2 separate regions of the Homo sapiens genome follow, and region 2 is reported to be linked to region 1. The links are microRNA targets in miRTarBase. Many come from high-throughput screens and were not tested one by one. Region 1 holds a microRNA gene; the other region holds the end of a gene's coding sequence.
What was found. The annotated mature microRNA hsa-miR-199b-3p reads ACAGUAGUCUGCACAUUGGUUA and lies in region 1 at 1,626-1,647, shown strand. An mRNA with a match to its seed (bases 2 to 7 or 8) in the 3' UTR can be bound and repressed. Matches are read on the target gene's strand: a 7mer-m8 pairs with bases 2 to 8, a 7mer-A1 pairs with bases 2 to 7 and ends in A, and an 8mer does both.

Region 1 (5,070 bases):
GTGGGTGCAGGTAGGAGCAATGGGGTGAGGTTGGCACTGTTCTCTGCCACACCTCACTCTCTAAGAGTCCCCCTGACTGGCCCAGGGCTTCTAAGCATCAGCCCCCTCCCACTGCGAAGGTGCAGCTAGATAAAAGCCTGGCCACGGACCGTAGGCCTCCTGGGCACCGCCGACCCCCGCAGAGCCAGTCCTACCAGCTCTGCATATATGCCGGGGGCCAGGGGGCTGGTGAGGGGTGGGGAGGCTGAGAGTGGCTCCCAAAATCCCTCCCCAGGCAAGTCCTGGATACAAGCCAGGCCAGCCTCAGGCAGGGACCGCACACTCAGGCCTCTCTCACCCCCGGCCTGGCCGCCTCTGACTTCATTTCCTGACTGCAGAGACCAGGAAGGGGGGCCACCAGACCCGGCGGCTTCAAAGGGCCGGCTCAGCCCACTCCCCCGAGCTCCCCATGTGTTAGCAATAAGGCAGCCAGCACAAGCCTGGAGATGGTGTGCCTGTGTGTGCAACATGTGTGTAGTTGTGTGTTTGTGCCAACACATGCAAGCCCAAGTACATATCCTATCAGCTATTGTGTGTGTGTGCACATGTGTATCTGGGGAGGTGCCCAGCATGAACCATGTGTCGGTGTCAGCGTGTCTGCATCTCAGTGTGGATGTGTGCACACTTTGTGGATGTGTGTGGCAATTGTGCGAGCCTACATGTTTGCAGAGCCATGCCTGTGGACTTATACTGGGGTACACATCTTACCTGCACACCGTGGTACAATGGGCTGTGTGTTTGATTTATCTAGAGCTGTCTGGGAGGAGTTATGTGTATCTGTGCACAGGCGTGTGGGGTGCTAGGCCCATGTGTGTGCTCGGTGTGGGCACATGTGTATGTAGGCTGCTGTGTCCCAGGGGAGGGGTTCAGGGATCTAGGGAGGAGGTACCCCAGGATGGGGCTCTGGGAGAGGGGAGGGGTTTTTGTCACCCATGCCCTACTTGTTCACGGGGGTCGTCTGTGTGGGCCTCGGGGACTCAAAGAGGTTGGGCATGAGCCTTGCCTAGGATCTCAGGTGGGGGGCTGGGTTTAGGGGGACCTTGCTCCCCCGTCCTGGCGTCATCCCGCCCACCCCTCTCTGCCCCCAACGCCCCCCTGGCCCATGCAGCCACATAAAGCCCTCTTTATGCCAGGCGGGTGGCCGGGAGCCCCAGAGGGCGGCTGGGGGAGGAGAGGAGGAAGTTGCACACACGGCCAGGGAACATCTGGAACCGTTCGAGAGAGGCCCCGCCACCACCCGCCCTGTGCTTCGGGGTTGGACACTAGGTAGGAGCGGCCTCCTCCCCCCACCCCTCCCTTCCTGCCGGCCGGCCCCCTCCTCAGGCCCCTCCTTCTCAGCCCCAGCTCCCGCTCACCCCTGCCACGTCAAAGGAGGCAGAAGGGGAGTTGGGAGCAGAGAGGGGACCACGGGCTGGCTGGTCTGGGGCTAGGGGGACACAGGCTGGGGTTGGGGGGTTCTCGGATCTCCAGGGGATGGGGCTGAAGCGCCCACCGGATGGACAGACACTGCTGCCTGGATGGACCAGAGGACACCTCCACTCCGTCTACCCAGTGTTTAGACTATCTGTTCAGGACTCCCAAATTGTACAGTAGTCTGCACATTGGTTAGGCTGGGCTGGGTTAGACCCTCGGCACCGCCGCCACTGGAGAGCTGGACCGACCCCTGCCTGCCATCCCAGAACCGGAGCCTGGAGCCAGGGGGTTGGGGCACAGGGCGGGCTGGGAGGAGGCACAGATGGATGGGGGTGCCACCCTGTGTGGGACTGGTTGGGGGTAGCGGTGATGGGGGAAGGGTGGCCGAGGAAGACTGAGAGGATGGGGGGGTCAATGGGGACTGGGGATGTGGGCAGCCGCCGGTCTGCCCAAAGAGCCTCCCTCACCCCAAAACCTGAGGGCTGGTGGTTGAGTAGAGAAGTACAGACCACTCTCCCACCAGCCTGGACCACCTCCACATCCCCAGTGGTCCTAGTGCAAGAATCCACTCACATTCAACACACACGCACCTTGACACTCACAGCCCCAGAACTCACACACATGAGCACCCCCACACTTTCAATCTCACACCCATGTCCCACACGGACACACACAAGTGCATGCACACACACCCATACACACCCTCACAACTGGAACACTCCCCCCATCCTCACATCCCAAAGACATACACAGATTCTCAAACACCCCATACTCACACCCTCCCTCCTAGAGCCCCCTCCCCACACACACCTGCTTTTACACCCCAAGCACAGGCAGGTGCCCAGAGTCACTCCCCAGGCACACAGATTTCACCCCCAGATGCAAATGCAGACCACATATTCCAAACACACCTAGATGCTTATACTCCAATCACACTCCTAAAAAACACCCACACACCAGACCCACAAGCCACACACACACACACACACACACACACAAACACACCCCGCCTCCCAGCACCCACAGCCCACAGCTGACTCCCATCTCCCCACATATGATTCTCAGAGCTGTTTTCGCACACGACTTAACTCAGATGTACACAAAAGCTCCAGAAAGGCCTGCAGGCTCAGGCATGAGATCAGGGGACCCCCTCAGTGGCACGTGCCCCTCCCCCACAGTGTCACCCGGTCTCCGGCCCTCAGCCCCAGGTCACATGGTCTCCCTGGCCCTGAGTAAGGAACCTCAACATGGGAGACCCCAAACCCATGGGGGCATCTAGGGAGCCTGCAGAGAGACCGGCAGGAAGCCACCCCCCACCCGCACCCCATGCCACTGCACACTCCATCCCTTCCAGGGGCCCCCATGGTGGGGGAGGCCAGGGTTGGGGTAATGAGGTCCAGATGGCTTGGCGCCCCCGCCAGTGACGACAGAGGGCCCCTCCCAAGGTGGAGAGTTGGGGCCCCTGCCCAGGACAAACTTGGAGGAGACAGGGACCTGGGAGGGGGCTTGGAGGCCAAAATCACAGGCCCCACCCAGAGCCCCGCTCCCCCGTTGAGGATGCTGTAGCCTCCAACAGCCCCCTCAGGAAGAAGAGGGTCCCTTCCCCCACTCCTTGGCCAGCTGGAGTTCATTACCACAAGCCCACCCCCAGCCCTCCCCATTCTCTCTGGTCACCTCTGGAATCCAGATGTGAAAGCCAAATAGACTCATTCTTAAAGGAGACCAGCAACAGGGGAAGGAGGTGGCAGGGGCTTCTGTGCACCCTAGTGGGCGGGGAGGGGTTTTTTGTGGCACCTCGGCAGGGCCCCCACACTCCTTGCCCCTCAGCCTGAGGGCACCCTGGTCATTTCCCTTGGACTGCAGGGGTCTAGGGGACTGGGGTGCAGGGGTTAACCGGGTGTCTGGCAGCTAGACTTGTGTGTGTCATGGGCCTGTGGGGGCCACAGAGGAGGCGGCACGCCCTGCAGCGGGAAAACAGGAAGGCTGCTGGGCTGCAGGGTCAGGGAGGGGCACCCAAGTCCCCTGCCCACCCTCCCCAGGGCGCTTAGCCCCAGGCTCCTCAGTCCTGCCAAGCTACCTTCTCCTTCCAACCTGGGTGAGAGGGTGCCTCCCCCTGAACCCCCAGGGTCACCTGCCTTGGACCCTTGCATCCCAACTCCACCCGTGGATCCTTTTTTTTTGAGATGGAGTCTCACTCTGTTGCCCAGGCTGGAGTGCAATGGTGCGATCTCGGCTCACTGCAACCTCCGCCTCCCGGGTTCAAGGCATTCTTGTGTCTCAGCCTCCCTAGTAGCTGGGATTACAGGCGCCCGCCAACACACCTGGTTAATTTTTGTATTTTTAGTAGAGATGGGGTTTCACCATTTTGGCCGGGCTGGTCTCGGACTCCTGACCGCAGGTGATCCACCTGCCTCGGCCTCCCAAAGTGCTGGGATTATAGGTGTGAGCCACCACACCCAGCCTGCCCACGGATCTTTGACGAGACATTTTAAAACCCTATTCCATGGTCTAGCCCACTCCAAGCCCATGGGAGGGTCTGAGCCTGACTCTGTCCACCAGCCCAGCCCCTTGATGACCACTGGCCCTTGACTCACCTCATCATCCTTGTACCAGGACAGATTCTCAGCAGTCAGCACAAACCAGTACTCCTTGGAGCCCCCTTTCATGATGCCAATATTATTGATAGTCAGCCAGCCCTTGCGGATGACCTGGAGGGTGATGGGGCAGGAGGTCAGTGGACAGGGCCTGAGCCTCCCCATGGGGGATGGGGTAGGCAAAGAGAGGCATTCGAAACCCCACCCCTCTCCCAGCTCTCTGAGGCCTGGCAGTCAGGGAGGGTGGGGGCCAGACCTGCCTTGGTTTGAACCACAAGTGAACAGAGTGGAAGACAGAGGAAGGCAGAGATCAGCTCAGGATAAAGAGCCTTTGACAGGCAGACCTGGCCGAGTTAAGGGACTGGAGGCCTGGGTAGGGGATGAGCTCCCTGTCACTAAAAGTATGCAAGCAGAGTTTATGGGGCCGATTGGGGAAGCCAACTGCGAGTCTTGGAAGCTTAAGGTCTCATCTGTTCTGAGATGTGTTTCTGACTTTACACATGCTGCTGCCGCCTCTGCCTAGAAAGCACTTTTTCCTTTTTGCCTGGCAAATTCCTACTCAGCCTTTGAGTATCAGCTCAGGATTCACATTCTCAGGCAGCCCCTTCCTGTCCCCCAGTATAAATCAGGATTCCCATAATGATCTTTGATCACTCCCTGAAGTCGACTTCTGTAACAAGGGCTTCGATTTTTAATTAACTTCTCTACGTGCGTGTGTGTGATTATCTGTCGATGCAGCCTCCCCTGCTAAATCATGAACTGTTGGTCACTAGTACATCCCAGCACCTTGCAGAGGGCCTGGCAGATAGTAAGTGATCAATACATATTTGTAGTATGAATAAATAAAAGCTATGATAGTACGGTTCTAAGGGTCTTTGGCTCCAGGTCCCCAGGGGCAAGGGCTGAGCCACAAAGTGCCTAGAGTAACAAGCTAAGGTCCCTTTTCATGGCAGGAAGCAGCTGTCCCCAGGACTGTCCAGAGCCATGGCCACGGTCCAGGGCCTGTGGATTCTACTTCAGGGGT
Region 2 (5,064 bases), not on the chromosome of region 1:
ACCCGAGCAGATGGGCTTTGCCTCTGCCCCTTTTGTCCCCTAGGCTGTCTGCTGTGGCCCACCCTGCCAAGGCCCGAGTGTGGGGGACTTTGGAGGTGGCTCCCGGCCCGGCTTCCAAGTCCTCCCCTCCATAGTGTGGAGGCTCCCCCGGGAGGTCCCTGCCCTACCTGCCCGCGTCCCCTCCCAGAGTCCTGGAAAGCCCCTCCCTTTCCATGGAACTGACGCTTCACCCGTCCTCCCCCAGCTCTCTGGACCTTCCTGTGGTTTGTTGGTTTCTGCTTCCTCACCAACCAGTGGGCAGTCACCAACCCGAAGGACGTGCTGGTGGGGGCCGACTCTGTGAGGGCAGCCATCACCTTCAGCTTCTTTTCCATCTTCTCCTGGGTAGGATGGCCAGGGGCCGGTTCTTGGGTCAAGGGTGGTGGAGGGTGGGGTCCCCCACCCACCTGTACCCTGCTGTGCTCCCCCTGCAGGGTGTGCTGGCCTCCCTGGCCTACCAGCGCTACAAGGCTGGCGTGGACGACTTCATCCAGAATTACGTTGACCCCACTCCGGACCCCAACACTGCCTACGCCTCCTACCCAGGTGCATCTGTGGACAACTACCAACAGCCACCCTTCACCCAGAACGCGGAGACCACCGAGGGCTACCAGCCGCCCCCTGTGTACTGAGCGGCGGTTAGCGTGGGAAGGGGGACAGAGAGGGCCCTCCCCTCTGCCCTGGACTTTCCCATGAGCCTCCTGGAACTGCCAGCCCCTCTCTTTCACCTGTTCCATCCTGTGCAGCTGACACACAGCTAAGGAGCCTCATAGCCTGGCGGGGGCTGGCAGAGCCACACCCCAAGTGCCTGTGCCCAGAGGGCTTCAGTCAGCCGCTCACTCCTCCAGGGCACTTTTAGGAAAGGGTTTTTAGCTAGTGTTTTTCCTCGCTTTTAATGACCTCAGCCCCGCCTGCAGTGGCTAGAAGCCAGCAGGTGCCCATGTGCTACTGACAAGTGCCTCAGCTTCCCCCCGGCCCGGGTCAGGCCGTGGGAGCCGCTATTATCTGCGTTCTCTGCCAAAGACTCGTGGGGGCCATCACACCTGCCCTGTGCAGCGGAGCCGGACCAGGCTCTTGTGTCCTCACTCAGGTTTGCTTCCCCTGTGCCCACTGCTGTATGATCTGGGGGCCACCACCCTGTGCCGGTGGCCTCTGGGCTGCCTCCCGTGGTGTGAGGGCGGGGCTGGTGCTCATGGCACTTCCTCCTTGCTCCCACCCCTGGCAGCAGGGAAGGGCTTTGCCTGACAACACCCAGCTTTATGTAAATATTCTGCAGTTGTTACTTAGGAAGCCTGGGGAGGGCAGGGGTGCCCCATGGCTCCCAGACTCTGTCTGTGCCGAGTGTATTATAAAATCGTGGGGGAGATGCCCGGCCTGGGATGCTGTTTGGAGACGGAATAAATGTTTTCTCATTCAGTCTCCAGTCATTGGTTGAGCCACAGCCTAGGGGTTGGAGGAAGACTCCACTCTGGGTACACCCTTAGGGGCTGGCTTTATGGAACTTGTAGTTTGAACAAGGCAGTGGCAATCCGCCCCCTCCAGCCTGCCTGGCTGGCCCCCTTCCCTCTGTCTGGGGTCGCATTCCGCACAAGCCTTTCATCAACATCTTAAAATAGTAACTGTGCTCAGCTTGTAAACAAGATGATTTTTCTGGCCTGCAGTGCCAGGGTCCTGCTGCTCCCTTCCTAGAGTGGGGGTGGGGGTACCTGGGAGTTGTCGGTGAATGCCCCTTTCTTGCACTGAATAGGGGTACCATAGGTAAGACCAGGTTTCTACCTTCCTCCAGGGTCAGCACCTCTGGAGCCTTCCTGGGACACGGCCTTGGCCGTCCAGCCCACCCCTCGGAGATAAGGCCCATCTCTGGAAGAGGTCAAGGCCCTAAAGCAACTTCTGGCTTCTTCTTTTGAGCAATGACAGAGGGAGCTGTCATCGGCAAGTCCCGATTGTTTAAAAATCCCCAGTACGAACTAACAGGGCACTGCTCCCAGCCTCACCCGATGGCTTTGGCTTGGGACACATCACTAGCGAAGGGGAGAGGGAGGCTGGGGAGGCCCTGGGAGTGGTGACCCTGCCTGCACAGGACACACCTTACCCCAGCGATGCTTGCCCCCAAGTGAGCTGCCAACAGCCCATCTCTGAGGCACAGCTGAGAGATGTCTTGACTCCTGAATTACCAAGAGTTTGTTTCACAAACAAAACCTGACCTCACAGGCCCAGCGGGCAGGACAGTGCCTCTTCCTTCCAACTGGGCCCCGGGCTCCTCTGTACACCCATTTTTGTCCTGACACTGGCCCAGACAGGAAGGCAGATGATGTTCTGCTTAGGACACACCCCATGATCATTTCTCAGTTCAAGGGTTGTGGTTAAGAGATCAGTATTACTACAGAAAGATCTGGGGGCCAGGTGCAGTGCCTCACGCCTGTAATCCCAGCACTTTGGGAGGCCGAGGCAGGTGGATCACTTGAGGCCAGGAGTTCGAGACCAGCCTGGCCAACATGGTGAAAACTCGTCTCTACTAAAAATACAAAAATTAGCCAGGTGTGGTGGTACACGCCTGTAATATCGGCTACTTGGGAGGCTGACGGGGGAGAATCACTTCAACTGGGGAAGCAGAGGCTGCAGTGAGCAGGGATTGCGTCACTGCACTCCAGCCTGGGCGACAGAGACCCTGTCTCAAAACAAAAGAAAAAAAGATCTGGAAGAAAATCCCCACCCAAATCAAGTTGGAGCTGTCCATGAGACCCAGGGAAACCCAGGTGAAAGAGAAATGTGCGTCCACCAACCAGTGAATTTTCAATTAGTTAATTTCATAAGCTACAGCAGAGGCGTGGACCCTGCCCTCTCCACACTTGAAGAGATAAGCCCCTGGGATCCAAGTCCCAGCAAGGTTGGTGCCACCCATCTTGGTGAAAGATGCTGTTGTTCCTGTGGAAACCATCACCAGAGGTAGGAAGGGCTTTGAGCCCAAAAGGAAACAAGAGGGCGTGAATCCAGGCCATCCTCAGGGGAGGGTGGGAGCCCATCCCAGGCAGAGAGGCCTAAGCCTCAGTGTGGGCCAAGGCTCAAAGGTGCTGGCACAGGCTTCCCAGGGAGAACAGAAACTCAGCAGTGAAAGCCGCAGAGGGGAAGAAGCAGGCTGATGTCAACAGCGTGGGGCTCTGTCCCTCACCCCAAGGAGAGGGAGTGTGCCAGATCCCAGGCCACCAAGCGGGGCCAGCTCCAGCCTGGGCGATCGTCCCAGCAGCTGAGAGGGAAGCTTTAAGCAGACCAGTGGGTAGGAGAGGAGGGAGCATGCGGCAGGTGGGGCAGCCACACAAAGGAGAGTTCCCAGAAGGCCAAGGTGTGGTCACCCTCCACGCCTCCCGACTTCCTCCTGGAGTGGCTGGGCAGCATGCAGGGCAGCGTCCAGTAGGCGGCAGTGGCAGGAAGGGAGCGGGCGGCCCTCGCAGGTCCCTCAGTTGGCAGGGCTGCATTGCAGAATCTGCTGTGGGGCAAAGAGCTTCCTGGCAGCCACGGCTTCCCCTGGCTTTCCTGGCACTGGGCAGTTCTCTTTGTTGTCCGGCCCGGCAGGCTGGCCTGAGGCCTTCTTGAAGTAGCAGAGCCGACACACGGAGTGGTACTTGTCTGCTCCCCCAATCACCTCGACCTGGCCGCAGGGACAGGGGATGGGTGAAGGGCCAGGACAGGAAGGAGGCAGAGCCATACCCCCACCCCGCCGGCCTGCAGGGAAGGCAGGTGGAGCTACCTCCTTCTCTGTGCCGAGCCTCTTGGTATAGGCGGCTTCCCGGAAGCACTCCATGCACACCGCCGTCAGCTTCACCACGCTCTCGGCCAGCGGCACCAGGTTCAGGATGGCCCCAAATGGCTGCGCTCCCATGGAAAGACAGAGGGCGCTCAGCCACCTTACCAGGTGGGTTTTTCTTTTAAACCCTCTGATTCACAAGCACTGAAGCCAGGAGAGTTTGCTCTGACCTTAGTCCTTCCCCCAACCCCCAGAGCACCATGCCCGGCTCTGTCCCTTTGCCAATTCAAAGCACCTGCCGCAACAGATGGCACGCAGTCTGCACAGACCATGGAGTCCCTTGGCTCAGCCAAGGCCTGAGCAGCTCGGCCGTAACCCTGTGGTGGCTGAGCCCTGGTCACCCAGAGCTGGTGTCTCTGTGCCCATCCAGAAGCCTCTTGCCCTCCTCAATCCCAGCTCCAGACCTGGATCAGACGCCTTACCTTCCTCTGGAAGGTCCCATCCAGTGCAGCCACAATTACGGTCTTCCCGGCGTTGGCCATGGCCTCGCAGAACTCCACGATGTCAGGGAACTGGAAAGGGCACGTGGAGAAAGAGTGTGAGAGCTTCCACCCCAGCAGCAGCTCCCTGGAGCCCCAGCGAAGACGCTGCCAGATCTGACAACTCCGGCCATTTGGCCCGGAGTAACTCTTAATTCTCCCACGAGGCTCCCCAGGCCGGGGGACTGTGTCCACCCGCACGCCCCCCAGCAGACGACAGGTACATCCACAACTGCGCAGCCCCTTCCCCCTGCAGCCAGCTTCCCTCCGAGTCCAGGTACCCAGGACTCAGCACCGGACTTCCACACCAGCTGTGCTGTTTAACACTGCAGTGGCCAAAGGCCTGCTGCCTTGGGCTCGGACACCACTCTTCGCTGGACCCATTATCTGTGTGACCTTGGCAATGAATTAACGTCTCTGAACCTGTTTCCTTTTCCTTAAGAGCAAGGAAGGTCCTGTTGTTTAAGGATGGAAGGCCCTAAGTTATATACATGCTCTTCGGTGAATAGGTGGGCGCTTTGTGCTCTTGCCTCCCCCGTTTTAAACGGGTAATGTGCCTTGAGAAGGGGCGGGGGTCCTACTGGCCATTTACAGAGCAGGATGACACAGCACAGCCTTCTAAATTCAGGACCTGCACAGAGCACATTTACTGTGTAAAGCAAACTTCACTTTGGCCCAGGGAGAAGCTGAAACTCTGGCAAGTGCTCTGGTGATTCTCATCAATCAATCATATCACTCTTAGCT

Region 2: miRTarBase lists SYNGR2 as a target of hsa-miR-199b-3p. Seed matches in the 3' UTR shown: 7mer-A1 at 985-991.

The regions. Positions count from the first base shown.
Region 1 is chr9:128,241,322-128,246,391 of GRCh38, reverse strand. It overlaps MIR199B (microRNA 199b), which reads left to right and starts at 1,562; the gene lies at 1,562-1,671. DNM1 (dynamin 1) reads right to left here. Exons shown (of 22, transcript NM_004408.4): 15 at 4,047-4,160. MIR3154 (microRNA 3154) reads left to right here and starts at 1,362; the gene lies at 1,362-1,445.
Region 2 is chr17:78,171,266-78,176,329 of GRCh38, forward strand. It overlaps SYNGR2 (synaptogyrin 2), which reads left to right. Exons shown (of 4, transcript NM_004710.7): 3 at 245-384; 4 at 474-1,455. The coding sequence ends at 671. It overlaps TK1 (thymidine kinase 1), which reads right to left. Exons shown (of 7, transcript NM_003258.5): 5 at 4,264-4,353; 6 at 3,785-3,904; 7 at 2,826-3,685. The coding sequence ends at 3,494. Among named protein-coding and RNA genes, the nearest start is that of SYNGR2, 5.2 kb to the left of the region's middle. RefSeq lists enhancers at 608-677, 1,498-1,767, 1,958-2,067, 2,628-2,757, 3,058-3,357 and 4 more.